Linked DNA regions of Homo sapiens: region 2 is linked to region 1. Evidence: fine-mapped expression QTL. A gene starts in region 1. The other region holds a variant in brackets. All regions are shown on one strand. Distances are between the middles of the regions. Region 1 holds the start of F2R (coagulation factor II thrombin receptor). Region 2 overlaps F2R (coagulation factor II thrombin receptor).

The links. PIP is the estimated chance that this variant, and not a neighbour inherited with it, causes the effect.
Region 2: its variant is fine-mapped to the expression of F2R in whole blood (TOPMed, PIP 0.98).

The regions. Positions count from the first base shown.
Region 1 is chr5:76,711,250-76,720,645 of GRCh38, reverse strand. F2R (coagulation factor II thrombin receptor) reads right to left here and starts at 4,520. Exons shown (of 2, transcript NM_001992.5): 1 at 4,251-4,520. The coding sequence starts at 4,338. It overlaps NCRUPAR (non-protein coding RNA, upstream of F2R/PAR1), which reads right to left and starts at 8,243. Exons shown (of 1, transcript NR_028375.2): 1 at 7,758-8,243. RefSeq lists enhancers at 1,670-2,170, 2,171-2,671 and a silencer at 4,465-4,714.
Region 2 is chr5:76,735,445-76,744,840 of GRCh38, reverse strand. It overlaps F2R (coagulation factor II thrombin receptor), which reads right to left. Exons shown (of 2, transcript NM_001992.5): 2 at 9,071-9,396. Among named protein-coding and RNA genes, the nearest start is that of F2R, 24 kb to the right of the region's middle. RefSeq lists enhancers at 3,209-3,288, 5,422-5,491, 5,592-5,921. The variant G/C (reference allele first, on the strand shown) is at 5,903.

The sequences.
Region 1 (9,396 bases):
TTTCCTTTCGGGGAAATGACAGGATTTTGGAAGTAGGTAGGGGTTTACAGTGTACATTGTACACTGTAAATGTACTAAATACCAATGAATTGTATACTTTAAAATGGTTAATTTTATGTTATGTGAATTCTACCTCAATTTTATTATTTTATTTTTTAAATTTAAATGATTAATTTAAATTTAAAATTTTCATTTATTAAATATTTTGAAGACAGCGTCTCTCCCACTCTGTTGCCCAGGCTGGAGTGTAGTCACGTGACCATGGCTCACTGCCACCTTGAACTCCTGGGTCAGGCCATCCTCCCAGTCTCCCAAGTGCTGGGACTACAGGTGCACACCACAGTGCCTGGCTACTTTTTAATTATTTTTTTTAATAGAGATGGGGTCTTACTATGTTGCCTAGGCTGGTCTCAAGCGATCATCTGGCCTAGGGTTCCCAAAGTGCTGGGATTACAGGTGTGAGCCACTGCACCCAGACCCTGAGAACCTGCTATGCTGGTATGTTCTATAAAAATAAAGGCAAAGCCACTAAAAATTATTAGATATAGATAGATAGATAGATAGTAGGGCAGAAAATTACTTGCTGACTCATAAGAAATCTGACTTTCAGGCTTTATAGAGCTTTCTGGTCTGCTTACGGTAGAACCACTGCTCAGTTTTCTGTCTTTCTGTTTAGGTTTACTAGCAATATCTCTTGTAACATCTGATTAATTAGTGTATTCATGAGCAGGGATCTTTTCAGAGCCTGCCTTATCATCTGTTAGCGAAAGTAAATGAGAGAATACCACAGTCCGTGCATAAATGCTCACTAAATACCTCCCTGTGCTGGGCCTGAGCTACCAAGGCGATAGGGCACAGACTTTGCTTCTATATTTTGATGAATTATCAAAAATAGGTAAATCCATACTGTACTAGGGAGCACAGTGGGGTTACTTCTCTACTGTAAGAGGTGCTGGGAGTCTAGATGGCTTCCTTTCTATAGGGGGTGTTAGAGAAAGCCTGCACTTCGGAGAGACAGGCCTGTGGTCAACTCCCAATTCCACCTCTTTTTTTTTTTGAGAGAGAGTCTCACTCTGTTGCTCAGACTGGAGTGCAGTGGCACAATCTCAGTTCCCTGCAACCTCTGCCTTCCAGGTTCAGGCAATTCTGGTGCCTCAGCCTCCCAAGTAGCTGTGACTACAGGTGTGCACCACCATACCCAGCTAATTTTGTATTTTTAGTAGAGACAGGGTTTCACCATGTTGGTCAGGCTGGTCTCAAACTCCTGGCCTCAAGTGATCCCCCTGCTTTGGCCTCCCAAAGTGCTGGGATTACAGGCATGAGCCACCGCACCCAGTCCCAATTCCACCTCTTTCTCAACTTGTGACTTAACCATTCTGGGTCTCTGTTTTATAACCAGTAAAATGAGGATGACATCTACTCAAAGGGCTGTTGTGAGAAATAAATAAGATAGTATTGTAACGTCCCTAAGAAGGATGTCAGCTGTAGTCAGTACTCCACAGAGGGTAGCTGTTTTTAATTAAACATGAACGTGGCGGGTATGGGATATGGGGAGGGCATTCTGGCCAGAGGGAGTGGCATGCGGACAGAAGCCAGAGAAAGCATAGCTCCTTGAAGGGAGGATCTAGAGGATGGGGCTGGGTGAACTGGAGGGTGAGTAATAGGAGATGGCTGGAGAGGGGCTGGGGACCCTCCTGCAAGGGGAGGAGCACTTCATTCCATGCCAGAGAATTGGGCTTGACTCTGTGAGTAGGAGGGTAGCAAGTGGAATTGCCCACCAAGTTCTCTCTGTCATAGTCACCACCAGCTATTCTTGAACACTTTAACCCTCTAGAGCCCCATAAAATTTATAAACATCACCTTTTACTCTTGGATGTTGGCCCTTTTAATGATCACATATCATCTCACTTAAATTGTCTAGACGAATGTAAACTGGTTGATGAATTTACACATTTCTCAACAACTATCTGCTGAGTGAACATTTGTTTTAGTCACCATGGGGATAAATAAAACTTTATAATCTTAGTTGGGAGAATGAGACACACACACAAAGTGACAAGGCAGGAAATGCCAAAATGAGTGGGAACAAAAAGTCGGGAAGTGCTGGAGGAAGGCTCAGCTTGGTGGTCAGGGCCAGCCCTGGGAGGGCTTCACCGCCCCTCTTGGCACACAGAGCTGGTAATCCTGGACAATAAACTCTATCACAGCGGTGGCGGTTCAAGGATGGGAGGCACTGTTGGATGCCTCAGAGTCCCAGCACCACTACCTTATGACAGACAATGCTTAGAATTGTCAATGCATGGTGGTAATAGAAAGTAAACCTATCTTGGGTTGATTTTATTAGTGATTTTAAATTTTCTAAAGACAAAGCCCCACTTATTCCTAATTGCTTGCACCCAGGGTGGGTGGACTGCCCCTTCCCTGCCCCACCCGCCACCACTTGCTTAGCCGCTGTCTCTGGGTCTTAGTTGCAGAATCAGCAAAAGGGGATAAATACCCACCTTAACAAGGTGTTTTGACAAGGTGAAATGAGACAATCCAAGTGAAAATTCCTTCTGGCCCAGGGCTTGACATGGAATATGGCACTTAGCAAGCGCTCCTTTTCCTCTATCATACTCCTTTCTTCTTTCCCTCCCAAAGTGGTTCCAGAATCCAGTGTTGATAAACTAGCCAAGTTCATCCACCTGCCTTTCTGTCTACACCAGCACTGTCCATATTAACATGCACCACTCCTGCCATGAGGATGTAAGAAGCTTGGCAGAAACCAGTACGCTTTGACTTCACTCCCTAATGAGGCTACACACCTTGCTGGGAGGCCACTGTGAGAAAGGGTGCAGCATTTCTATAAGCTCTGTTCTCCACCCCATGATCCAAATCTCAAACAAAACACTGGATTCTCAAGAGCGTGTCCTCAAACTACATTGTGCAAATTACATAATGGTATGTGAAATCATATCTCATCGCAAACAATTTTTCAGGAGTTCTCGGTGTTCTCTCAAACACTTTCGGCAACAATGCTCACTTATCTGCAGGCAGGCTAGTTACTGCTAAACACTGGGCCCCAGTCTGGAGCTCTTAGTTTTCCCAAAAGCATCTCAAAACTCACCCTGAACAAAGACAGAGAGGCGAGAACATGCTATGTCTTTGTCACCTCTTAATCTTGATGTGTCTACACTTTTTTTTGAGTGTGGGAGCAATATAGAGTGCACATTCTTTTAGCGATAACAAGAAAACCCGCTAGAACTTCTTTCAGCGTAAAAAAAATGGCTCAAAGCTTATAAAATACTATTGTTATTAGGAAATTCAAAAACACTTTTCTCACTTTCTAATTAGCGCCTTTACAGGCTAAAAACAACTCATCTGTGCTGCTCTTGGGGAAAGGGATACAGAAAATATTTGACCAAATAAATTAATCAAATTTATTTATTTGGTCAAGTGGCCAGATACTTAAAAATAGACTACTAGTGGGGAAAATATTCTAGGGGAGCAACCTTCTTGCAGTGGATCAGAAATCTCGTTAAGAAATACTGGGATCCCACAGTGTTCGAGGGAGCCCGGTCCTGGGGAGGGATCTCTCTCTTCAACTCACTTAGAAGGAATGGGTTCTAGGTAACAACAAAATCCTCTCCATGTCCCCTCCCCCGCCACCACGCGGAGCCTCTGCTATTGTCACCATATATCTCGCACCCTGCGCACCTCCTGGACACAAGGCCGGGCCGGGGGCTGCTGGTACTGATTCTCTGCTAAACATGCCAAGGGACTGCCTGGGCTTTTCTCTACATCACTTTTCTCGCCTGTAAAATGTGCAAGAAAAAAACTTCCAACAAAGCAAAACTTCAGCGGCAGCGGTTCGCCACTTTATATTTTAAAGATCGAAACGTTTATTGGTGGAGCAACGTGAGAGCTTTTCTTTTTGGGGGTGGTCCTGGGAGAAACACAATGACAAGTGCAACGCAGGACTGCAGGCTCCCCCAGGGGGCTTCCGCTCCATCCTCCTCCATATCCAACACCCCGTGGCAGGCGGGCTGCACCCTCCAAGATCGAGTCCAAAGGGGCATCGGCTGGGCCCGCGAAGGGGGTGGCACGCCCCACCTAAACGTGACTGGAAAAAACTCCAGATCTCAGCCCAAATGCCAGTTTGGCTTTCGGAGGAAACTGAGGCAGGGGTGAGGAGAAGGCGCAACAGTGACCCCCGCAGTCTCCCCTCGGCGTCCCTCCGCCCGCGCACCCCATTCCCGTGCATCTCTCACCTGGCCTGCGGGCCCGGGTGCGGGCAGACAACAGCGGGCCGCACAGACTGAAGCAGGCGGCCACCAGCAGCAGCCGCCGCGGCCCCATTGTCCCGGGCTCTGCGCGGCGCTGCTCCGGGAGGCTGCCCCGCCTCGGGCTGCTCCGCTTCACCCTCTCTCCTGACTTCTGCGGGTCGGGGAGCCGGTCTTCGCGGCAGGCAGAGCGCAGGGTGCCCACGGGTAAGATCAGGGTCCAAGCGACCCTCGGCGAGCGCTGTGTCTGGGGCGGTTAGCGGGGCGGGGCGGGACTGGGGCGCGCGGTCGCGCGGGCGCGAGCGAGGAAGGGCGCCCTCCGGCGTGCAGTGAGAGTCTCTGCGCTGGAGCCGCTCGGCGCCCCCTCCCCGCGGTCCCTCAGCCGCCGCTCGCAAGCCCCTCTGGCTCTGTGCGCCCCGCCCCGCCCCGCCCTGCCCTACTGGGGGGCCCTGGCCGCCGGCCACTGCCGGGCCTAGAAGTCCAAATGAGAAGTTTTTTCCTCTGGGCACCGTTGATTCGCGAAGCTGTCAGTGACTCACACTGGCGGGGTCCTTGGAATGGGGCCGCACGGCTCGCAGGCTGCTTCCCGCGGCCGTCTCGACCCTCCTGGGATGTGGAGACGTCGACAGTGGACGCCCCGGCCAGGATGCGTCCACGCCCTGCAGCCCCGCAGCCCTGGCGTGGCCTCCCGTCCTCCCTCCCTCCGTGTGGGACACCGGCAAAGTTCAGTTTTCGCTAAAAGTCTAAAAGGGACTTCTGCTTTTGTAACGTGGGGATCACGGATTTAAAAGTTTATGATGTAGTGACAGGGTTGCCCCTAAATGAGAAAGGGCCCTTGAGTCTGGACAGAATTCTTGAACTTTTATACGTCTCTCTTTATTTCGCGAAGTTAGGCGTTTCATACGCCGGGCACTCGTTTCCCCCACACGCAGACTGCGAGTGGAATAGGAAGAGCGGCTTCTCCCGCTTCCCCCCCGCGCGGCCTCGCGGAGCTCTTCCCTTTCCCGCGCCGCCCGCCGGGGTCACCTGCGCATCTGGGAGGAGGGCGCGCGTCTGCCGGTGAGGCCGGCGTTCTAGGGCCGCGGGCGCCCAGGAGAGAAATGGCCTGGTAACTTTCCAAGTGTCCTTCACACGTTCTTGAACGATATTACAGTTTGTTTTGTTTTTGAGGCAGGGTCTTGCCCTGTCGCCCAGGCTGGAGTGCAGTGGCGCCAACACGGCTCACTGCAGCCTCGATCTCCCTGGCTCAGGCCACCCTTTCGCCCCAGCCTCCGGATTACCTGGGACCACAGAAAGGCGCGCGCCACCATGTCCGGCTAATTTCACTGCTGGCCTCAAGCGATCCTCCTGCCTCAGCCTCCTAAAGTGCGGGGATTACAGGCGTGAATCACCGCGCCAGGCCTGATATTAAAGGAGTTTGGCTAAATTCAAGGCACAGGGCGGGGACACTCGCTTGGCAGTCTGCTAAGGGCCCCCAGGGGCGTCGCGGCTGGGGGTGGGCAGGAGGAGCCTGCAGCTTAAGTTGCTTTGCCACTGGCTCTGGTGCGTGCGCCTTTCAGACTCCAACAGGAAATGGGTCCCCAAATAGCTGTTTCTAGGAAAGCTCAGCCGCAGCCCCTTCTCCTCTTAACCCAGCGCACTGATGTGCGGGCATATTCGGAGTTCTGTGGTTGATAAGCTGCAGCTGAGAGCCGGTGGTCAGTTTTCTAAGCCTTTTTTAAAAGTGAATTTCGCACGAAGAGTATCATTCCCCCACTAGAGCCCGGACACTTACATCCGTGGAGAAAGTACGATCAGAGGCGATTTCGTTCTTCCCTGTATTCTCCCATCATCCTCAAAGGACAGTACCTTGTTGTACACAGAAGTTGATCACTAAATTGCGGAAGTACCCAGTTAAATAAAGCTTTTTAAAATCTATCCCCGTTCAGTTATCCTCTGGAAACATACCCAAGAGTAAATGTGAACAGTTAAAATTACATAGTTCTTCATTCACTATTAAACTATTTTTCATTATTCCTAAGACGTCATTGATTTTACAATTTATCATTTTAACCCATTACCACAAGCCAGAAAAAAATGTGACATACCAATGATTGTAAGAAACACTCCAATTTCAGGGTTATGAAGAAAAGGCATTTTAGAATCAATGAAACACAGTGGAAAATATAAACACATATGACAAAATTTCTGATAGTTGAAGGATATGAAATGAAAAATAAATTACCTTCTGCCTCCCCTCCCCTAGTTGCCATCTGACCACTAAGTTTCCCCTCCTTCCTTCCTTCCTTCCTTCCTTCCTTCCTTCCTTCCTTCCTCCCTCCCTCTCTTCCTTCCTTCCTTCCTCTCTTCCTTCCTTCCTCTCTCTCTCTCTCTGTCTTTCTTATTTTCTTTCTTTCTTTTTTTTCCTGAGGCGGAGTTTCACTCTTGTTGCCCAGGCTGGAGTGCAATGGCGCGGACTCGGCTCACAGCAACCTCCGTCTCCTGGGTTCAAGCGATTCTCCTGCCTCAGCCTCCCGAGTACTTGGGATTACAGGCGCCTACCACCGCGCCTGGCTAATTTTTTGTATTTTTAGTAGAGACTGGGTTTCACCATATTGGCCAGGTTGGCCTCAAACTCCTGAACTCAGGTGATCCACCCGCCTTAGCCTCCCAAAGTGCTGGGATTACAGGCATGAGCCACCGCATCCAGCTACCTGACCACTAAGTTTCTGTTCACCATTCAAAAAATCATATCCACATACAAATTGCATATATGTATATCCTTAAAATAAGAATGGAATAATACCACCACATTTTAAAATTTTATCTGTGTCATTGGTGGAAAATGTTATTTTTAACCATTTTACAAAACGATAAAGCTTAAAAGGATGCTTTGGGGTCTTAGTTGTTAGAACAAAATGTACCTCTAGTGACAAAAAGACGTACAATGAAGGCTGGGTGCAGTGGCTCACACCTGTAATCCCAGCACTTTGAGAAACTGAGGCGGTCAAATCACTTGAGGTCAGGAGTTAGAGACCAGCCTGGCCAGCATAGAGAAACTCCGTCTCTACTAAAAATACAAAAATTAGCCGGGCTTGGTGGTGTGCACCTGTAATCCCAGTTACTTGGGAGGCTGACGCAGGAGAATCACTTGAACCTGGGAGGCAGAGTTTGCTGTGAGCCAAAATTGCACCACTGCACTCCAGTCTGGGCAACAGAGCAAGACTCTGTCTCAAAAAAACAAAAACAAAAGCAAAAAAAAAAAAAAAAACAAAAATAATGAAATGCTTAAATGCTTTGTGCATATTGACTAAAGGATTCCTTCTAGGAATATTTCTGCCAGTTGTATTTTTTGAGGCTTGTTTGGTACATGTTTATCTAATTCTTTTTAAATAGTATACTATTCCCTTGTATACATATAATAAATTTTAGTCTTCTAAAACTATTTTATCTGTAGTGTTGTCCCCATTTATATTCCTAACATAGCTAATTTTTTGCTTTTTTCCCTTTATCTGACCAGAGGTCAGAAATGACTATTTTCTAATGCCCGTCTTTTTGCTCCGTTACTTTTATTTTTATTTATAAACACAGATTTTTAATTCATTCTTTTCCTCTACTTTCTTTGAGTTTACTCTTTAGCATAATTTTTTTTTTTTTTTTTTTTGAGACGGAGTCTCGCTGTATCGCCCAGGCTGGAGTGCAGTGGCGCGATCTCGGCTCACTGCAACCTCCGCCTCCTGGGTTTACGCCATTCTACTGCCTCAGCCTCCTGAGTAGCTGGGACTACAGGCGCCTGCCACCACGCCCGGCTAATTTTTCTGTATTTTTAGTAGAGACGGGGTTTCACCGTGTTAGCCAGGTTGGTCTCGATCTCCTGACCTCATGATCCGCCCGCCATGGCCTCCCGAAGTGCTGGGATTACAGGCGTGAGCCACCGCGCCCGGCCTCTTTAGTATAATTTTTTGAACTGATTATTTTTTACCTCTTCTCCTTCAAAAGACCACATCAGCTACATTTTGCAAGTTTTGATATGTGCATATATAAAATTCAGGTCTAAATATTTTGTCAATTTCATTCAATCTTCAACCATAAATTCTTGGATATTTTGACTGGCTTTTTGTGACTGATTTCTAATTTTATGGTCTGTTAGTGATGTTGTTTTTTGTTTTGTCCTTAGACTTCACAAAGTTCCTATGTTTATGTGCTCTTAAGAGCTTTTTTTTTTTTTTTTTTGAGACGGAGTTTTGCACTTGTTGCCCAGGCTGGAGTGCAACGGCCGGATCTTGGCTCACCACAACCTCCGCCTCCTGGGTTGGAGCGATTCTCCTGCCTCAGCCTCCCAAGTAGCTGGGATTCAGGCATGTGCCACCATGCCCGGCTAATTTTTGTATTTTTTTTAGTAGAGACTGGGTTTCTCCATGTTGGTCAGGCTGATCTCGAACTCCCGACTGCCGAGACCAGCTCGGTGGTGGAGACCCTAACCTAGCGGTGCTAGAGGAATTAAAGACACACACACAGAAATATAGATTGTGGAGTGGGAAATCAGGGATCTCACAGCCTTCAGAGCTGAGAGCCTCGAACAGAGATTTACCCACATATTTATTGACAGCAAGCCAGTCATAACATTTACTAAAAGTATTACTTATGGGAAATAAAGGGATGGGCCAAAACAAAGGGATGGCTCTTGCTAGTTATCTGCAGCAGGAACATGTCCAGGCACAGATCACTCATGCTACTGTTTGTGGTTTAAGAATGCCTTAAGCGGTTTTCTGCCCTGGGTGGGCCAGGTGTTCCTTGCGCTCATTCCAGTAAACCCACAGCCTTCCAGCGTGAGCGTCATGGCCATCACGAACATGTCACAGTGCTGCAGAGATTTTGTTTATGGCCAGTTTTTGGGCCAGTTTATGGCCAGATTTGGCGCCCTGTTCCTAAAACCCGACCTCAGGTGATCTGCCCGCCTTGGCCTCCCAAAGTGCTGGGATTACAGGCGTGAGCCACCGTACCCGGCCTCTTAAGAGCTTTTTGAAGAAGATAACCCACTACTTCATTTGTTCCACGCCACTCCTACCAAAACCCCTTTGTCAGTTTTAAAGCAAACATCTGTAGGTTTCTGAGAGTAGAAAATCTACTTAACCAGAGATGATAAACATGTTGA
Region 2 (9,396 bases), 24 kb before region 1:
AAAAACTTTAGCATTTTAACAAATAAACTGTGGTTTACTAGGTTAGAGATTTCATGTAAAAACTAGATCCATGGTTCTCAAAGTTTGGTTTGCATAAGAATCACCCCCAGCTCTTGTTAAAAATGCAGATGATCCAGGTCCTATCCCAAACATTCTGGTTTTAGGTCCGGGATGGAGACCAAAAACCTGCATTATAACAAGCAGCTCAAAAGACTTTTGTGGACTCCATTTCCAGAAGCACTGAATGTAGTCACTGCTGGGTGGTTCAATCGACTACTGAAGCTGCCTTCATTATACAGAAGCAACAAGCCTATGGATACCAGCTTCAGTCTCACCATGTAAGAGACCATTTAATAATTGTAAGAAAATGAATAAGTGAAATTAAGGATCCAACAACATGGGTCAAAGAATGCAGAAATTAAATAAAGCTCAAGTATGTTTTAAAAAGAGCTTATGGGATAATTAATCAGATTTTTAAAATACTGAATAATAGAATGTGGGTTACACACATTCATTAATTTCAAGAATAAGAGGACTAACATAACTATGCAATAAAATCAGTCAAAGTTTTTGTTTTGTTTTGCAAAAATAATATTTGCTGCTTGATGAGGAAATATGAATTCCAGAAGAAAACAAATGAATAGCCCTTTTGGCACAAGTATAAAGACTATCAGAGTAAAAAGTCGTGCTCTGGTTATGATGACAGAATGCTGTACTGAATGTTCTGGTAGCTGCTGGGGACAAATAGAAACATTTCTGGCTTCAGAGTATAGCTAATGACTTTTTTTTTTTTTTTTCTTTTTTTTTTTTTTGAGACAGAGTCTCGCTCTGTTGCCCAGGCTGGGCTCACTGCAACCTCCACCTCCAGGGTTCAAGCGATTTTCATGCCTCAGCCTCCTAAGTAGCTGGGATTACAGGTGTCAGATACTGCACCTGGCCATGGCTAAAGATATTTTTATGTTTTTGAGAATTTCAGAGTTCCACAAGATATTTTGGGAGAATCTTGAAGATGTCAACTATATGTAGAATCATATGATTTCCTAACACCATTATTTCCTGCTTGAATAATATATTGAGGCACAAAATACTAATTGTGGCTAGGAGATGGTCAGAAAGATTTGTTTGTTTTTTCAGATTATTTTACTTTTGTTTTAATGTGGGTTGCTTTTTTGCTAGAGAGGCAGTACATACTCAGGAAAGAGAGAAGTAGAAAATACTTTAAAGGAAAAAAAATGACCCAATTACCAAAACGCAAGTTTAAACATCTTGGTATATTTCTCATTAGTCTTTGCCTTGACTTAGATCTATTTTTCCCCATCTTGTTGGTTTTGTACTGCTTGTATATCATTGCATCTTATTTTTTAAAAAATTAAACATTATAAGCACTGCTCTGTGTCGTTACATACACTTAAAACGTCTCATTGTTAAAGGGTATAATAGTCTCTGGAGAAGTCCTTTAAAATTACACATCTAGAGGAATTTTGTCTTCTGCTAACATGCAAATAAGGCTGCTATTAACAACCAGAAGCCTATTACTTTTTTTGATGTTATTTGTAATTATTTCTTGATAGATTCCCAGAAGTCATACAACTGGGTCAAAGGTTATGAACATGTAAGGATGATGACATTTTGTCAAATTGCTTTCCTAAAGTGTGTCCACCGACATTATCTTACCCTTTCTGGTATTTATATTATTTTCCTTATTTCCTCCATTCCTTCTGTAATACTTATTAGGGAGCTGTTTTAGCCATCATAGAAAAAGATCATTGTTAATTGGACACGAGCCGGTGTTATCTTGTTTTAAATTGCAGCTATTGGATTATCGCTGAGATGTAACATTTTTTCCCACGTTGGCTAACAAATTGTAGTTTTTCTTTCATCATTTAGTTTTTTCAATCAACTTGTAAGAGGGCTTCTATAATGACGAATTTACTCCAAGTTTACTGAATGTGCTGTAAATGTGTTCCCAGAGTTGATTAACAAAATCTTTGGTTTTCCCCAGGCACAGTGGAATCATGGATCCTCTGATGATGATCCCTGGGCTGACTCATTTGCCTTTGGGTTTGCAAAACTTCTCATTCCAGCTCCATCAAGACTGAAGCTCCTGAATGCTAAGTAGCACCCTAGTGCTTCCCTGAGGTCACCATTTTTCAGCCAGACCCAGAGACAGGAAAAATATCCACAGTTGCTTTCTGGTAACCAGGCGCTGCCGCTATCTGCCGGGCACTATCTTTAAAAAATGGGAGTTGCCACTTTAAACCCCCAGTGTCTTCTGAAATGGTTTTATGTATAAGATTAGAGCCATTTAAGCTATCTTTTTCCCTAGAAAAGAACCAAAGAAGGGAGAAAGAGGAGAGGAAGCATACAGCAAGATAGATATCACCTACAACAAATTTTGATTAAGAACATATGCTGCCACTACATTAAAAATTGCCCCAATTTTCTCAGAATAAAAAAAAATTGTCTCAGAAAATGATTTTAAGAATATGAGAATTGATTTTCTGGATCCCTGGACCTGCAACCTAGCCAAATTCTGCCTCGGGGCTATCTCTGAGAGCACTGCTATTCAAAGCATAGTCCAAAAGGAGCAACTTTAACTTTACCTGGGAAGTTGTTACACAGGCAGACCCAGCCTCGGACCAGTTGCAGCAGACTCTGGTAATTTGTATGCAGGTTAAAGTTTGAGAAGCAGACAGATCACAGCTCACTGTAACTTTGAACTCCTAGGCTCAAAGGATCCTCCTGTCTCAGCCTCCTGAGTAGCTGGGACTACAGGCGTGTGCCACCACACCCAGCTAATTCTTACATTTGTTTTAGCAGGGTCTTGCTATGTTGCTCAGGCTGGTCTCAAACTCTCAAACTCCTGGCATCAAGCAATCCTCCTGTCTTCACCTCCCAAAGTGCTGGGATTACAGATGTGAGCCACTGCACCTGGCCAAGAAACACTATTTTCTTTTCTTTTTTAAAAAACTTTTACTTTAGGTTCAGGGGTACATGTGCAGGTTTGTTATATAAGTAAATTGTGTGTCTTGGGGGTTTGGTGTACAGATTATTTCATCACCCTGGTAGTAAGCATAGTACTCGATAGGTGGTTTTTCAGTCCTCTCCCTCTCATCCTCCACCCTCAAGTAGGCCCTGGTATCTGTTGTTCTCCTCTTTGTGTCCATGTGTACTCAATGTTTAGTTTCACTTATAAGTGAGAACATGTGGTATTTGGTTTTCTGTTTCTGCATTAGTTGGCTTAGGATAATGGCCTCCAGCTCTATCCATGTTGCTGCAAAGAACGTGATCTTGTTCTTTTTTACGGCTGCATCGTATTCCATGGGGTATATGTACCACATTTTCTTTATCCAGTCTATCATTGGTGGGCATTTAGGTTGATTCCATAGCTTTGCTATTGTGAATAGTGCTGCAGTGAACACCTGTGCGCAGATGTCTTTATGGTAGAATGATTTCTATTCCTTTGGGTATATACCCAATAATGGGACTGCTGGGTTGAATGATAATTCTGTTTTAAATTATTTGAGAAATCACCACACTGCTTTCCACAATGGCTGAACTAATACTTTACATTCCCACCAGCAGTATATAAGCTAAGAAGCACTTTTCAAAAACAGTGGTATTGTTGATCTAAAAGGAAGAAGCTGAGTCAAAATTAATATAAGTAGAGAGTTTATTTGGGCCAAGCTTGAGGACTGCAACCCAGTGTATATTGAAGTGTATATTCAAGTTGTCCTGAATATACAATCTGATTAGCAGCAGTTGCATGTGAATGTTTATAAAGGAAAAGAGGCAGTTCCTAAGTTGTTTATCAAAATTTACATTAAAATAACATAAGCTGTTGATTGGATACACATTGTTCTTTGTATCACAGATTCCAGGAACATGAAGATAACAGGGAATGTAGCTAGTCAGGAACAAAATGCCTTTTTTTTTTTTGAGATGGAGTCTCTCTCCGTTGCCCAGGCTGGAGTGGCGCCATCTTGACTCACTGCAACCTCTACCTTCTGGCCTCCTGGGTTCAAACAATTCTCCTGCCTCAGCCCCCCGAGTAGCTGGGATTTCATGAGCATGCTGCCATGCCTGGCTAATTTTTGTATTTTTAGGAGTGTAGGGGTTCCACCATGTTGACCAGTCTGGTCTCAAACTCCTGACCTCAAGGGATCCTCTCGCCTCGGCCTCCCAAAGTGTTGGGATGACAGGCATGAGCTACCACACCACCAGGAACAAAATGACTTTAAATAATTGCCCACAGGCATGGGGGGTGGTGGGTAGGGGGAGGGTATGTGCCGGGGGTGTGACTGAAGTCCTCTACTCCCGTCTCTCTGGGCCTAATAAATTTTGCACACCTCACATAGCTCAGACTGCTGAGGGATTTTTCTTTTCTTAGTATCAACCCTGGTTTACACATCAGAATCTTCTGAGGAGCTTGAAAACAATATCAATGTCCAGGCCTCGCCCCCAGAGATTGGCACTGGAATTGTTTAGAAGCTCTCCAGTGATTCTATGCGCAACCAGAGTTGAGAACTGATTTAGTTTCTTTTCTTTTCTTTCTTTCTTTTCTTTTTTTTTTTTTTTTGAGACAGAGTCTCGTTCTGTTGCCCAGGCTGGAGTGCAGTGGTGCCATCTCGGCTCAGTGCAGCGTCTGCCTCCCGGGTTCCAGCAATTCTCCTGCCTCAGCCACCCGGGTAGCTGGATTACAGGCACGTGCCACCATGTCTGACTAATTTTTGTATTTTTAGTAGAGACAGGGTTTCACCATGTTGGCCAGCCTGGTCTCGAACTGCTGACCTCAGGTGATCCGCCCGCCTTGGCTTCCCAAAAAGCTAGGATTACAGGCATGAGCCACCAGGCCTGGCCAACTGATTTAGTTTCTAAAACTTGTTACAAGGCAGAGCTGATAAAATTCTAAATCTGAGGTCTTCAAATTTTGTGCTTCCTAACTAAACATTAAGTATTAGGATTAAATCCCAAAGCCAGTTAGCTTCTGGAGGATGGGAATATATTATTTGTCTTGTTTTTTTTAAAATATGTGTCAGCTAGTTTCAAGAGCAACTAGATATCCCAGGATAGGAAACAAAACAACAAAAATAGATATCAAATGATTATGGTTTTGCTCACGAATGCATCTCAGTATTGGACAGCCCACCCTTCGTGGTGTTTTCACTTCCTTGGATGGGTCGCATAGCAGCACACCAAAATGACCTGCAGATGTAGTCATTAAGATAGGCAAAACAGCCAGACTGGCCCTGCCACCATGCAGGCTACTATAGATGCAGCTTTCTTTTCTTTTTTTTTTTTTTGAGATGGAGTTTCGCTCTTGTCATCCAGGCTGGATGGCACAATCTCGGCTCACTGCAACCTCTGCCTCCTGGGTTCAAGCAATTCTCCTGCCTCAGCCTCCTGAGTAGCTGGGATTACAGGTGTGTGCCACCACATCTGGCTAATTTTTGTATTTTTAGTAGAGACAGGGTTTCACATGTTGGCCAGGCTGGTCTCAAACTCCCGACCTCAGGTGATCCACCCGCCTCGGCCTCACTAAAGTGCTGGGATTACAGCGGTGAGCCACCGTGCCCTGGCCAGATGCAGCTTTCAAAGCTCATCTCCTTACTGCTTATGAGTCATTTCCTGAAGTGATAAACACACAGCCTGCTGGGTTGAAACTGTACATGCTGTGTTATCTGAATTCTGAGATGCTACTGAATTTGACCTCTGGTTTTCCGTGTGTTTCCATAAGACTAGCATGCAATCAACAGTCCCCATGACAACAAACTTGGCGCTTGAGTTTCACTTTACAGGAATGCCACCATGGGTAGAATCTGCTGCTGTTCTGAATTGTCTCTTGGTCTTCTGGTCTGAAACTTTGCTCAGCAAGCACCTCTCTCTTTCCTTTACACAGCAG[G/C]TGGCTGAAAATCAGACCTCACACAGAGCTTCCTGTTCTGTGGACCACACCATACCTGATGACGTGAATCAGTATCTTTTCTTTTCTTTTTGTGACAGGGTCTCACTCTGTCACCCAGGCTGAAGTGTAGTGGCACCATCTTGGCTCATTGCAACCTCCGCCTCCCAGGCTCAAGCCATCCTCCCACCTTAGCCTCCCAAGTAGCTGGAACTACAGGCATGAGCCATCACGCTCGGCTAATTTTTGTATTTTTCGTAGAGACGGGGTTTTGCCATTTTGCCTAGGCTGGTCTCGAACTCCTGGGCTCAAACCATTCATCCGCCTTAGCCTTCCAAAGTGCTGGGATAATAGGCGTGAGCCACTGAGCCTGGATGTTGAATCAGTTTCTTGCTCCAAGACTTGGAACCCCTCAGCTCTGAAACAGCCAGAAACCCAGAGTGGTGCCTGCAGCTCTAAGCCAACTCTTTACCCCTGTTTGCTTTTATGCTTTTATAATAATTACCAGTTTATCTGTTTTCTTCAAGTCAATAAAGTTGGGACATCTTGGATAAGGGCAGTGGTTTTCAAACTTCTTTTGCTCAGAACACCTTAATACACTTAAAATTATTGAGGACCAGCAAAGAGCCTTTGTTTATGTGGGTTGCATCCATTGGTGTGCTGGAGTCAACTTGTACCTGCTCACAAGAATTCAATATTCAGGAAATTTGTCAAGCCAACTGTTAAACAGTTGGGAGCTTGAAACTGGAAAAGAAGGGAGTATTCACACCATCAAAATTGGCAAATGCTAGTTTGCCAGATCAGGCTTTTTTTCTTTTTGTGGAGATCCTGCTTAGCAGCACATCACTGACTTTTTTTCTTTTTCATTTTTTGAGACAGCCTTGCTCTGCTCTGTCGTCCAGGCTGGAGTGCAGTGATGCCATCTTGACTCACTGTAACCCTCGCCTCCCAGGCTCAAGTGATTCTCGTGCCTCAGCCTCCCAAGTAGCTGGGATTACAGATGTGCACCACCACACCCAGCTAAGTTTTTTATTTTTAGTAGAGATGGGGTTTACCTATGTTGCCCAGGCTGGTCTCGAACTCCTGGCCTCGTGATCCGCCTGGCTTGGCCTCCCAAAGTGTTGGTATTACAGGTGTGAGCTACTGCACCCTGCTGCCAATGATTTTATCTACTGATATTTTCCATATTAGACATTAAAATGGAGAACTTTTGAAAATATCTATTTCAGCTAAAAATGACAATAAGCCCATTACATGTTAAAATAAATACTATATTTTTCAAAATTTTTTCCCAAAACAATAATTTAAGGAGGAGAGTTGCATTGTTTTACATTTTTGCAATCTCTTTAATGACTGGTGTAATAGGAGACAGTCAGATTTTCGTCTCTGCTTCTGCATTCAATCTGTTGCACTTTCACATGTTGTGTAGCTTCTGGAAAACTCATCTGTCCACTTATGAGAGAAACAGACCAAAAAAGGCAAATAATATCTTGGTATTTGAAGAGAGTTTGACCTTGCAGATCTCCTGAGAGTCTCAGGAACTCTGAGAATAATTGCATTAGAGAATTTCTCCTCTCTTCTCACATTGCAGCTCACTTAACCACACCTCCTTCACAAAACACAATTAGGTTTATCCTGTGGTCAATTACTCTTCACACACATTTGGTCTAGTAGTTTCAAAAGGCATAGCCACATAACAGGCTAATTATGCCAGGAAATTACCATTGGTGAACTGTTTTTCCCCTTAATTTTCACGACAGCACCTGGCTGAAGATAAGCTGCTAATGGATGGTCCAGGCCCCAGAAACTTAAATAGCTTGGTCATCAATGCTGCTTAACCTTTTCCACTTGCTTCTGTAGCTCAACTTCCTCAAAGACATGCCAACGGCAAACAGTTTTTAAAATTTCTTAAATTCAGAAGTATAACCTAAAATTTTCCAAGTGTATATTCAATAGCCAAGCATTCCATTTCCTTAAAAATGCTATTTTTAGCTTGGTGGAAAAAACATTTTTTTTTTTTGGATACATGGTCTCACTCTGTTGCCCAGGCTGGACTGCAGTGGTGCAATCATGGCTCGCTGCAGCCTCAACCTCTTGGGCTCAGACGATCCTCCCACCTCAGCCTCCTGAGTAGCTGGGACCACAGGCATGCCATCGTGCCAGGTTAATTATTTATTTATTTTTTAATTGAGATGGCGTCTCACTATGTTGCTCAGGCTGGTCTCAACCTCCTGGTCTGAAATGATCCTCTGGCCTCAGTCTCCCAAAGTGTTGGCATTATAGGCGTGAGCCACCATGCCTGGACAAAAAAAATTTTTGTGTTAGCAAAATTTAAGGTTTTTTGAACTCAATCTATTCCTTGAAACACACGTGAAAAGTCCAGGCCTTAGAAACTTAAAAAGCTTGTGTGTTAACTTATAAAAATTCTGTATGTTAACAAAATCCTTGTTTAGTTGAAATAATTTTTTCATTGACTATGACTCTAGAAATAATTTATCAAAAATTTTTTTATTTTCAACCTTGAGAAGTACTAGTCATTTTGCTTTAAATTTCCCCTCCTCCCTTCTGCCTGAGGGAGTGCTAGACAGCAAAGGACTGTCATTCAGCCAGAGAAGACAGCACAGCCATTTTACGGATTTCCTTTCTGCTCTGACATTTAATTTCTCTCTCACTAGGGAAGAACTGCAGACACTACCCATGATGTCTATAACTCAGAAATTTGAATATATTCTCAATAAGCTTAAATTTTCTTAAGAAGGGATTGAGAGAGAGAGAGAGAGCTAATCACTCAATGTCTTTGGCAGAAATGGTGCTGTTTGTTTTATTTTTTCCTTGCATTTGTTCTTCCAGATCCCTTCTCCACGGCAAAGGAAGCTGATCTTTATGGACTACTTCACTCTGGGTATTGGGTTAAGATTAGGATCAAGGGGAGGCCTCCCAAGAGATCAGAGGGTGAGGGAGAGGCGTCAGTGTGTTCCCTCCTGTACCTGGGCCTTGGCAGTAATGGCTTCCCCTGATTGCTAGTCTCTGGGGGGTGCTTCACCAGTCCCCGTTGGTTCCCTTAACCCTGTCTACACCTTTGTAAATCACCTCTTCATTAAATGCTCTTCAGTTAAACCCTTAAAGTGTGCCAGGACCAGAAAGATATAATACTAATTTGTTCCAAAGAGATACCAAGCAAATGTTCACATTTATTAATACAGGTTATGTTTTTAAGAATGAACATAAAAACAGTGACATACTATTTTGTAAGTACATTAATGATATCATATTTTAATATATACAGACTAATAAACAATGACAGTAAATCTTCACTGATTTAGATAAAATGAATAGTCACTAAATTAATAAAACCAGTGCTAGCTTCTACTTACAATACAGTTATATTACTTTTATGTAAGTTATTCTATGGTATTTGGAAATAGTTTGCTCTTTTATTTTTTTATTTTTTATTTATTTTTATTTTTTGAGATGGAGTCTTGCTCTGTTGCCCAGGC